3 separate regions of the Homo sapiens genome follow, and regions 1 and 2 are each reported to be linked to region 3. The links are microRNA targets in miRTarBase. Many come from high-throughput screens and were not tested one by one. Region 3 holds a microRNA gene; each other region holds the end of a gene's coding sequence. Distances are between the middles of the regions.
The links. Region 3 holds the annotated microRNA hsa-miR-548f-5p (UGCAAAAGUAAUCACAGUUUUU, at 2,079-2,100, shown strand). A microRNA usually pairs through its seed, bases 2 to 8, with sites in the 3' UTR of a target mRNA and lowers its output. Matches are read on the target gene's strand: a 7mer-m8 pairs with bases 2 to 8, a 7mer-A1 pairs with bases 2 to 7 and ends in A, and an 8mer does both.

Region 1 (3,248 bases), not on the chromosome of region 3:
GGAGCCCAGGCCTCTCCTCCACGCACCCCTCACTGGCACCCCTCACCATCTCCCATACATTCCCTATGGTGCAGCCTCTCAGTCCTAGCACTAAGCTCAAAATACAGATAAGAGAACAAACAGTGCAAAAAGCAAAAGGTGAACAACAGAGTAATTCTTGACACATACAATACAAAAATAAAAATAAAGAATCCCACCCCTTTAACCTAAACTTCATGTACCTATATCTTGGAGGAGCCACAAAACAAAAACAAAAACAAAAAAACTTTCAAGTTCAGCATCATGAGCCAGCTGTGACCAGCCCCAGGGAGCTCTTGTTAGCTGGATAGGCTTGGCTCCAGGGGAGTCTACCCCAGCCCCCACCATACTTCTTCCTGTTTCCTCACTTCCCCTTTAGTTTTTGTTAGCCATAGAAAGATGTTCCTTCCTTTCGTTCACAACCAGAGAGGAAAGCGCCCATCCCTAACCCTGAGCTCAGGGGAAAAGGGTGGGCTTGGAAACAGAGGCAGAAGCAAAGCTGCTTGGCTTACAGTACCATTAGGAAATGGCCCCAGGAGTCAGGGTTTCCTTCTGAGACTCTGAGTCACTGAAGGGATGTGTTGAGGTGGAAGGCGGGACCCCCTCCTTCCTCAGACAGACCCAGGCAAACTAACAAACAAGGCAAAATGGAGGCAGCCAGTCCTCCTCCTTCATCTTGACTAACCCAATGGCAGTGGCCCAGGGCTTTGGGGAATTTCGATGGGATAGGAACCAAAGCTACTGCCAGAAGCCTGTTTAGTTAGGATGTCCACTGCCCCAGGCAGGTGGTCCCCAGGACCAAGGCTACAGTACCTTATCCTTTAGAAGCAGGGGAGCTGTGTGAAGCACTATGGGAAGTATACCTCTGACTGCAGCCTCGGGCCACAACCCTCCAGCTGCCTGACTCAATACCCTAGCACTGAGACCCAAGTCACAGCGAAAACAACAGGCTACAATTCTCAAACGACTAAATGCTGGCCTGGAGTAATCATTAAAGAGCCAAAACCCAGGACATGAGCCCAAGAGCTACCTATTTTGTCACATAAGGAGCAGTTCAAATATACAGAGCTCTTAAAAAACATATCTAATAAAGCAAACTCAAAATTAAACACATTCTAGAAAAGCGGGCCTGGCCTGAGATCCTATATTGACTGCTCCAGCCCAAGCTGAAGCTAATCCTGCTGTCTCCCATCCACAAAATTCCTTCTAGCTTGGCTGGGTCCTCCTTCATTGTTGCCCTAACTGGGAAATGGATGACAATGGCCAGAAAGGAGGGGACCAGGGAAGCTTCATTTCCTATAGAAATTTTTTCAGGGAATTCAAGATCGACACTTAGATGCTAAGGTTAGCTTCAGAGCTGCCAAGGCTCTGGCTGACTGGAATTCTTTCAGTCCCATCACACCAAGAACCTGACTGCTACTTGGATAGAGAAATGAAAGGACAGGGGAAGGAGGGGCATACTATTAAGATCAATAAGAAGCATCGCTGGGCCTATATAGCTAATTAGTCTAGTTCCTTGAAGTAGCTCTAGGCATAAACCAAAACTGGCTGAACTGTGACACACAAGAACATGGGAATAAATGAACATCAGATACCAGACACTCTAAACAGTGGTCAGTCACTTAGTAGGGCTCAAATCTCTGAGGTTGCTCTTAAGCTATGCTAACATAAGCCTTTTCTAATCCAAAGACCAGAAGAGACTTTTAAGGTCAAGTGTTCTGTTGCTGCAGGCTGGAAAGCATCCCTGCCCCCTGGCAGCAAGGCCCTACAAAGGGGCCAGTAAAGAACTGCTGGGTCAGGTCCTCCTGGCTGCTGGCTCAGAGATCCAGGGAGGGAGGTACCAACAAGGTGAGGTGGTAAAGGAGAAGACATTCAAGCAGAGAACCCCAAATCCCCGTGTCTCCTTCCCTTCTTGGCTATAACTTAGTGGGATGGTTGAGAGGGAGAAGAAATTTCAAATGAGCCAGATTAAGGAAACAAACAAACAAACAAAACTGAGAAGAAATCAAGTCCCCAACAGGCACTGAAATCAAAATGATTTGTTGTGGTAACAAGTCAGAGGCGATCTGAGGACCCGACATAACCGAAACGTCTTGGATGCTGGACAGTCTATAACTGGCACATGCCAGGGAGACAAGCAATGACAAAGCTCAAACACTAAAGGTGGGACCATCACTGGATTAATCCAGAAAGGCTTCCAGATAAGGAAGCATTTTCTTTCTTTTTTTTTAATCTCCCTACTTTTTTTTTTAAGTCTTTACCGCACAAATTCTACCCCTTCACACACATTCTTTCAATCCCAGGACGTCTGAAGTCTTATCTAGACATAACTTCAGACCGTACCTAACTCCCAGTGCTGGTCGTCTCAGGTAATAAGATGGCATTTCCCTGCTGTTAATTTCTAACCTAAAAAAAGGAACAGTGACTCCTCTGAGTTCAGAGTCCTTTCCACTAGGTATACAAATGAGGATCCTTGAGCAGGAAGGATCCAGTTTACCCTAAGTATCCTCAAGAGGAAAGAGAAGGCTGGGAGCCAGCCACAAAGAGAGGACGAGGACTGAAGCACGTCTGGGACCAGGTGGTGAATGAGGGCTGCTCTCTACTCGCTCTGCCTCTTTTTGTCTCCTTTAATTGATGTGTGTTTTTTTCTCTTTGTTTTTGTTCATTAATCATTGTGAAAAATACAGAAACCAAAACCAATATGGCTGGTTTCTTTCCCACACCCCTCCACCCTGTTCAGGATAGTCATTTGTTCTCACAACCGGCAGAGGCAGAAGAGGGTTGGAATGAAGACTCCGAAGGCCACCAGGATGGGAAACATGAGGCTGCTGTTGTCCGAGGCATAGGGGTTGGGTGTGCGGGGGCCTGACTGCACCCGGTTCTTATTGGTCTGTTTTTTGAGATTAGACCCTTCATCATATTCTTCTTCTTCTTCTTCCTCTTCTTTCTTCTCCAATCCCGGATGAGGCTGAAGCTTTGGTACATCTAACACAAGGAAGAAAACACTGTTAAGACCCACAGCATTTAAGTAAGAGAGACCCTTAAAAGCAGCAAATAAGCCACAATAAAGAGATTGCTGTGATTGAACCCGGGTCCAGAGAAAAGACCAGAAGTAGCAGAAATAGCCTCTGGTCTACAGAACAGCAGAGTGCTGCAAAAGCTTTAGATTTAACTAGAAAGTAGAAAAAGCCGTGCTCATAGGGAGGTTCACTATCTTACCTTCCTGTTCT
Region 2 (3,256 bases), 23 Mb from region 3:
CAAACCCAACCCAGGGTGTTAACTGCAGTGGGGTGGGCAGTTTACATATGAGTGATCAACTCAAGAGGGGCAATTTTCTTTCCCAGTTTCTTGCTGGTGAAGGAGAGTCAGGTGGGGATGGAGCAGAGTGCCAAGGAGCACAAAGCAGACAGCCACACAGTAGAAAGAGTGCAAGCTGTACTGCCTTGCCTCAAACCTGGGGTCTTACTCTGAGCTGAATGACGTGTCTGGGGGGCTCTTTTGCAGGGGTCATCCAGGGAGGAGCCCTGTCAAGCATTTGCACTCAGATCTTGGCAATGGTCAATCAAGAACAAAATAAAGTCCTGTGGATTCCAGCCTGCCCGCTCTAGGAGAATGCTGTGCTGTGGATGACTGCAGCTGGCCGCCTGAGGGGACACCAGACTCAGCTCTTTTCTAGCGACTGAAAGTAGAAGTCTGTCCGTCTATGAACATGCGGGGGAAGGATCCGGAACCAGGACCCAGAAGCACCTCCTTTGTAGACAGAGGGCCACGGCTGCGTGCGATCCAGGCCCAGGCCCACACACTCTGCCCGTGTCACACGTGTGCTTTAACACAAAACAGATAACACTAAAGACGGGTTCAGCACCCACCTTTCTTTAGCCAGCTGATCAGAGATGCTGCAAAGAGAACCTTTCGGATCACTCGTTTACAAGCCTTTTCTAAGTATTTGGTGGTTTATGTTTACTTGAACGGCTCCATGTTGCCGGTGCCCAGCCCCTGTCCCCTCTGTCAACCCCCTGTCGCTTTGGTGTTGGTTTCGTTCCCGTCTTCAGCAAAACGACCTTGGAACCTCAATGGGGGCTGCTTTGCTTTGGGAGGTTCTTGTTGGTGGGACCAGAGCTTTGACAAACCTCCTGCTCCTTGGTGGCACCTCTCCTGGAAGGACGTCACAACTCCAGGTGCTCAGACTGCCTGTGGCAGCAGAACCAGTGCCTTTGGCATTTTCCTCCCACAATGGGGAAGGTGACTTTGGCATTCTTACAAACTCGTCTCTCGGCCTTTCTCTCCTGCCTTCCACAGCCTCTCGTTTCTCCTCCATCTGTGCTTATTACTTGAGGACTGTGTCTGCTCCGTGAGAGCTGCGTGGGCAGGGCTGCAGTGGGGTCCAGGTGGTGTTCAGCTGTGCTGATGCCTGCCATTGGGTCCTCCTTAGGCTCTGTAAGTCGTGACAGCCTTCATCAGTGCAATGTTTGCAGGGTAATTCTTAAACTTTTTAGAGGGTGGCAGGTACATCAGTTCTTTTTGATATGAAAACATTCATGTTTCAGACATTGAATTGAGAGCTTTTAGGGGAAGCATAATGGTTATTGTCACTATCAACAGTCTAAAAAGAAAAACTGAGGTCTTTTTAATCTTGATTACAGCACTCACGGCATGCACCCTACTCAGTGTGGGTGTCTTCGTTTGGGGGCTTTTTTTTTTTTTGCACTTCTGAGGCTAGATATGTCTGGCTGAAGATTTGATGTGGTTCCTCCTTAAGCTATGCGTCCTGTTAATAATAGGTACTGTACTGGGCTCTGTGTAAGTGTCGTTGGGGTAGGACCTATATTTTAATACTGTTCCTAACATTTCATTTTACTAGCGAGAAATCTTTGATTTCATTTTATTCTTTGTAATTCTAGACACTAGATTGTAGTTTAGCCATAACTGATGTTTTTTAAAAAGGGATATATTTTCTTGCACAGTTGTTCAAAAAAGAGACAAGTTTCAGTCCTCAATGCTGTCCTTTGTTTTACAGGTACAAGTTTTCTAGCTCAGACAAACTATGAAAAACTGTAGACTATTCTCAAGGTATTAACTCGCAGACCCTCTGGGGGTAGGGGCTGTTTTCTAAGTTACAGGCAGAGTGGGACTGAGATGGTACAGTGTGCACAGACAGGTACTGAGCTGACAGACTGGGATTTTCTGTACTAAAATGTTACTTTGTATCAAAAGTTAAACAGGCTTTAGTACAACAAATAAAGGTCAATTTCTGTAAGGCTGTGTTTGAAGATGTGAGTTTTTAATCTCTTCCTAGTCAGTCAGCTTTCCTGTATTTCTAAACTTGAGACAGCTTCTCCTCTGCAGCACGTAGCTGGAGTTGGCTGATGTGTAGGTTCTTTCTGTCTCACATGACAATTTGCAGTCCCTGCTACCCGCTGCATCAGCCTCTCTCTCACTCCTTCCTGCCCTTCCCTGCCACCCATCTGTCCAGTGTGGCATGAACTGGTGACTGCAGCCAGGCTGCCCATCTGTGTGAGACCCAGATTCTGCCCTCTGGCCCTCACATTCAATTCTGCAGGCTTGGGAAAAGCAAAAGGGAGTGAGCTGAGTGCTCTGGGTAGCATTCTCAGTCAGGGCCCTGTCTGGGGCCCTTGGCTGGGAATGGCCCCACCTGCTTGGGGGCTGCTTTGTAGTACCTGACAGCATCACACTGGGAGATCACCCAGCATTGCTGGACTCCCAGAACAGCCCACGTGGGCCTGAACTCCGTGTTGCAAGGTGATGAGGAAGTTGGGAGGCTGGGCCTTTAGCTGCAGGAAGCCAGGTTGAGGCCTGGGGCAGAGCAGAGCCCTCCTTCTCTGATCCTTTTTCTTGGAGGGGCTTGGGGGCAGAATGTTCTCCAGAAGCTTCACTCACACTCCACTGGTGGCCAGGCTGGTGGGGGCAGACTGATGTGGATGCCTCCCTCATCATTTCCTGCTGGGTGAAGTTCCACTGTGGCCCTGCAGTCTTGATCTCACCTGTGGCCACGGGGTGTCACAGAGCTGTGCGGGGCTCTGGTAGTTGGAGTGGGCCCTTGTGTCCATAGGGACAGGGCCTGCCTCTGTCTCCTTGACAGCCCACACCCTGCGCCATCCTCAGAATGGGCAGCAGAGCCGTTGATATATTTTTTTTTTGAGACGGAGTTTCGCTCTCGTTGCCCAGTCTGGAGTGCAGTGGCATGCTCTCAGCTCACTGCAGCCTCTACCTGCTGGGTTCAAGTGATTCTCCTGCCTTAGCCTCCTGAGTAGCTGGGATTACAGGCGTGCGCCACCACACCTGGCTAATTTTGTATTTTTAGTAGAGACGGGGTTTCTCCATGTTGGTCAGGCCGGTCTCAAACTCCCGACCTCAGGTGATCTGCCTGCCTCGGCCTCCCAAAGTGCTGGGATTACAGGCATGAGCCACCACTCCCGGCCTAACACGATGGATTTTAAGTCACTGACTGGGCAGATGGGGGTGTAGGGGTTGGGGTGGTGGCTGCTGGTTTTAG
Region 3 (3,256 bases):
ACCCATGAAAAACCATCAGTATTGTTAATAAAAGTATCAAGAAATACAAATGAATTTAATGTTTTATTTTACATTAGAGAAACTATTTTAATGACATAAATATATGAACATAATTGAACTGCATATAAAGTGTTAAACCAATATTTAGCTATCTAATGTATTATAAATAGCCCTGCCTTCACATACATTTCCTCTAGGGAAAAAAATAGAATCATTTACTTTCTATAGATATTTAGTGTTCTTCAAAGTATCTTTGTTATTAAATTAATTTGGGAGAGGGAGGTGGTTAAGAAAACATTGCTTTACACCAGTACATATAACTATGTGATTTATAATAAATGCAACCACAGTGGCAGTATATTTTCTGGATGTTAATAGCCTGAAATCCCTTTCAGTAGCAGCATTAATCAGTCAAGGATGGGTTATTTTATGGTCTTTAATGGCCTTTGTTGATAGATGGAGATTTTGTTTACAGATTATTCTTCATTGAAGCACCATAGATTGCAAGCTATGATTCTTAAGAGATATTCTCAAAACATAAATTATGCTGCTAAGAAATCTGTTCAGAGCTAAATTAAATTAGATAGCTGCATTTTTTATGAAGCATAGGTAATGGAGCAGTATACTACAAATGCCTTTTCCTGAGACATTGGTGTGGAATATCTTTAACACAGAATTTTTTCCTAAGAAACATTCCTTTACTTGTGTGCAAGTTTATGAGCCTACATGTTCCTCTCCTGAGTAATTTATGTAGAATACATAACATTTGAAATGTATTTATGATATTTGACTATTATAATGAATATCTGCCTTCAGGTCAGACATTACCAAAAATTTTCATTTTTAAAAAATGAGCAAAAACAGTAGTGCTCATTTATATTTTCCAAATGTCTTCATAATTGAGTATACTGACAATTCAATAGTCAAATTTTAATAATTGTTGCAGTCAACGTTTTGTTTCACATTGAATAATTTTTTATTGTACCTTTCAGGGAAACATTATTCGTGCGCTTGTAGTGCGTGATTATCATTCATGTTGCTTCTAATAATATTTTGCTCACATACATCTTATAGATTGAGTACAGAGTCTAAAAATTTGGGTATGATTATACTACTTCAGAATATATTTTCATTTCCCAAATGTTATTGACTCTTAAAATTTCTAGCTAGGGACTGATTTTTTTTTCTCATTTCTTCTTCTTCTTCTTTTTTTAATGGAGAATAATATAATAGCTGTGGAAAACAAATGACTGTATTTTACTAAACTACACTAAACAAGCCAAGACACCCTTAATTTAATTCAATGTGAAAGTCAGAATTGTAAGAGAGCATAAATCTTGACTTCTTGACGAATATTACCAGACTAAGTCACATCATTTTGTTTGATGACTTTCTCCTTTTTGTATTTTTTATTTTGTTAAGAGAGGGTCTCTGTCACCCAGGCTGGAGTGCAGTGGCATGATCACAGATCACTGCAGCCTAGATATCCTGGGTTCAATCTATCCGCCCACCTCAGCCTCCAGAGTAGCTGAAACTATAGGCGTGTGTCACCACACCCAGATAATTATTATTATTATTATCTGTAGTGATGAGGTTTCACTAAACTGCCCAGGCGGGTCTCAAACTCCCGAGTTGAAGCGTTTCTCCCACATCAGCCTCTCTAAGTGGCTGGACTATAGGTGTACCCCACCATGTCCGCTATTTTTTCTTTTTTTTTTTTGGTAGAGATAAGTTTTTGTCATGTTGCCCATGCTCGTCCTAAACTCCTGGGCTCAAGCAATCCAGCCACCTCGGCCTCCCACAGTGCTGGGATTACAGTTGTGAGCCACCACACCTGGCCTCTCCTTTTATTGAGCGAAGTGTTTGCATACAAATCCCCTGGGATTTTTTTGCTCGGAAATCCCCTCAGGGCTATGCCTAGTCCTCTTTTTGGCTCTATCACTTTTACTGTATTTGTCAAAGAAAAGTATTTCAAGTTAAAATATTATTTTGAAAAATTCCTTATGTGTGCAAGTCTTCTCACAATAACCAAAATGATGTAGGCAAAGCCTTTCCAAAGTGCGGAAGTATTAGGTTGGTGCAAAAGTAATCACAGTTTTTGACATTACTTTCAAAGACAAAAACTGTAATTACTTTTGGACCAACCTAATAGCCTGATTAGCAGTGTCTTGCTCACAGTAGGCCTCATGGCATCATATCTCTTCCTTACCATCATTCTTCATATATCTATAAAAATTCTTTGTAGTAGACAGTAAAAGCCTTAAAGTTACCATTGATTTATTGAGCAATCTAATATTTTTTCTAATAAATATATTAAGATAATATAAATTTTAAAATCTCCATTACCCTCTAGTCTATTATATTTTCTTACTGATTGAATCGTTATGCTAAGGCAATTCTAATCGTAAGGACTATGGGTTGATTTCTACTCTTAACCTGAAACAAGAATAAATTTGTCATGCAGACAAATTTGCATAATGTTCAAAACATAAACATATGCCAGGAATTGAGAGGTCTCTGAGGGCAGGGACCTGGATTTCCTGTATGCCTTTCCTTCTCTTCTCTCTAGTCTACTGCCATTCTTTAATATTTTTCCATATTTAATAATGCCACATGTTATCATATATTGGGTAGTGGGCAGGGATATGGAGAAAATCATATTTTTGCCCCAGAATCCTCTACCAAGAATATTATTAAATTTAGAAGATTTTATATCACATTATTGTTTACCACATTTATTGCACATAAACTCAATTTTAAATCTTATAATTATCTTTTGACTAGTTCAGATATATTTAATTATTGTATTTTCTTTATGTAAAAAGTATTGTTATTAAATGTAAACATATAAAACAACTCATTTTCACAAATAATTTTTAGCATTTTAATTTTTTAAAATTGCAATAAATATTAAGTATAAGTTACTTTGACAACTAAAAGACCTTTATTACTTATGTTAATAAATCTTTCTAGCCACCTGAAATTAGTATATCTTTTCAAAAAATTCACTATATTTTTATGTGTATTTGCAGCCACTCACCATTTAGCCTTTGTTTTATGACTCTAGGGAATTCTTCATTAAAAGCTTTAGAATAGTCAGAATGTGAAACAGAAGACAGATCTATATAAGGCTCTTCCTCTCTCATCCTTCTGTTAGGAATTCTGCCACACTTTTGGTTTCTGATGGGTTTGATGTGACTTGGCCTTAAGTTTGGGCCATCCTTTAAACAATTAATCTGTGTTCTCTGCCACATGC

Region 1: the mRNA of MLEC is a reported target of hsa-miR-548f-5p. Seed matches in the 3' UTR shown: 7mer-m8 at 132-138 and 7mer-A1 at 124-130.
Region 2: the mRNA of DLG5 is a reported target of hsa-miR-548f-5p. Seed matches in the 3' UTR shown: 7mer-A1 at 1,443-1,449.

What each region holds. Positions count from the first base shown.
Region 1 is chr12:120,696,071-120,699,318 of GRCh38, reverse strand. It overlaps MLEC (malectin), which reads right to left. Exons shown (of 5, transcript NM_014730.4): 5 at 1-3,003. The coding sequence ends at 2,774. Among named protein-coding and RNA genes, the nearest start is that of MLEC, 11 kb to the right of the region's middle.
Region 2 is chr10:77,789,534-77,792,789 of GRCh38, reverse strand. It overlaps DLG5 (discs large MAGUK scaffold protein 5), which reads left to right. Exons shown (of 32, transcript NM_004747.4): 32 at 247-1,999. The coding sequence ends at 350. Among named protein-coding and RNA genes, the nearest start is that of DLG5, 140 kb to the left of the region's middle.
Region 3 is chr10:54,606,770-54,610,025 of GRCh38, reverse strand. It overlaps MIR548F1 (microRNA 548f-1), which reads left to right and starts at 2,069; the gene lies at 2,069-2,152. All of the region lies in intron 2 of PCDH15 (protocadherin related 15), which reads left to right. LOC105378311 (a long non-coding RNA gene) reads right to left here. Exons shown (of 6, transcript NR_134503.1): 3 at 3,041-3,256.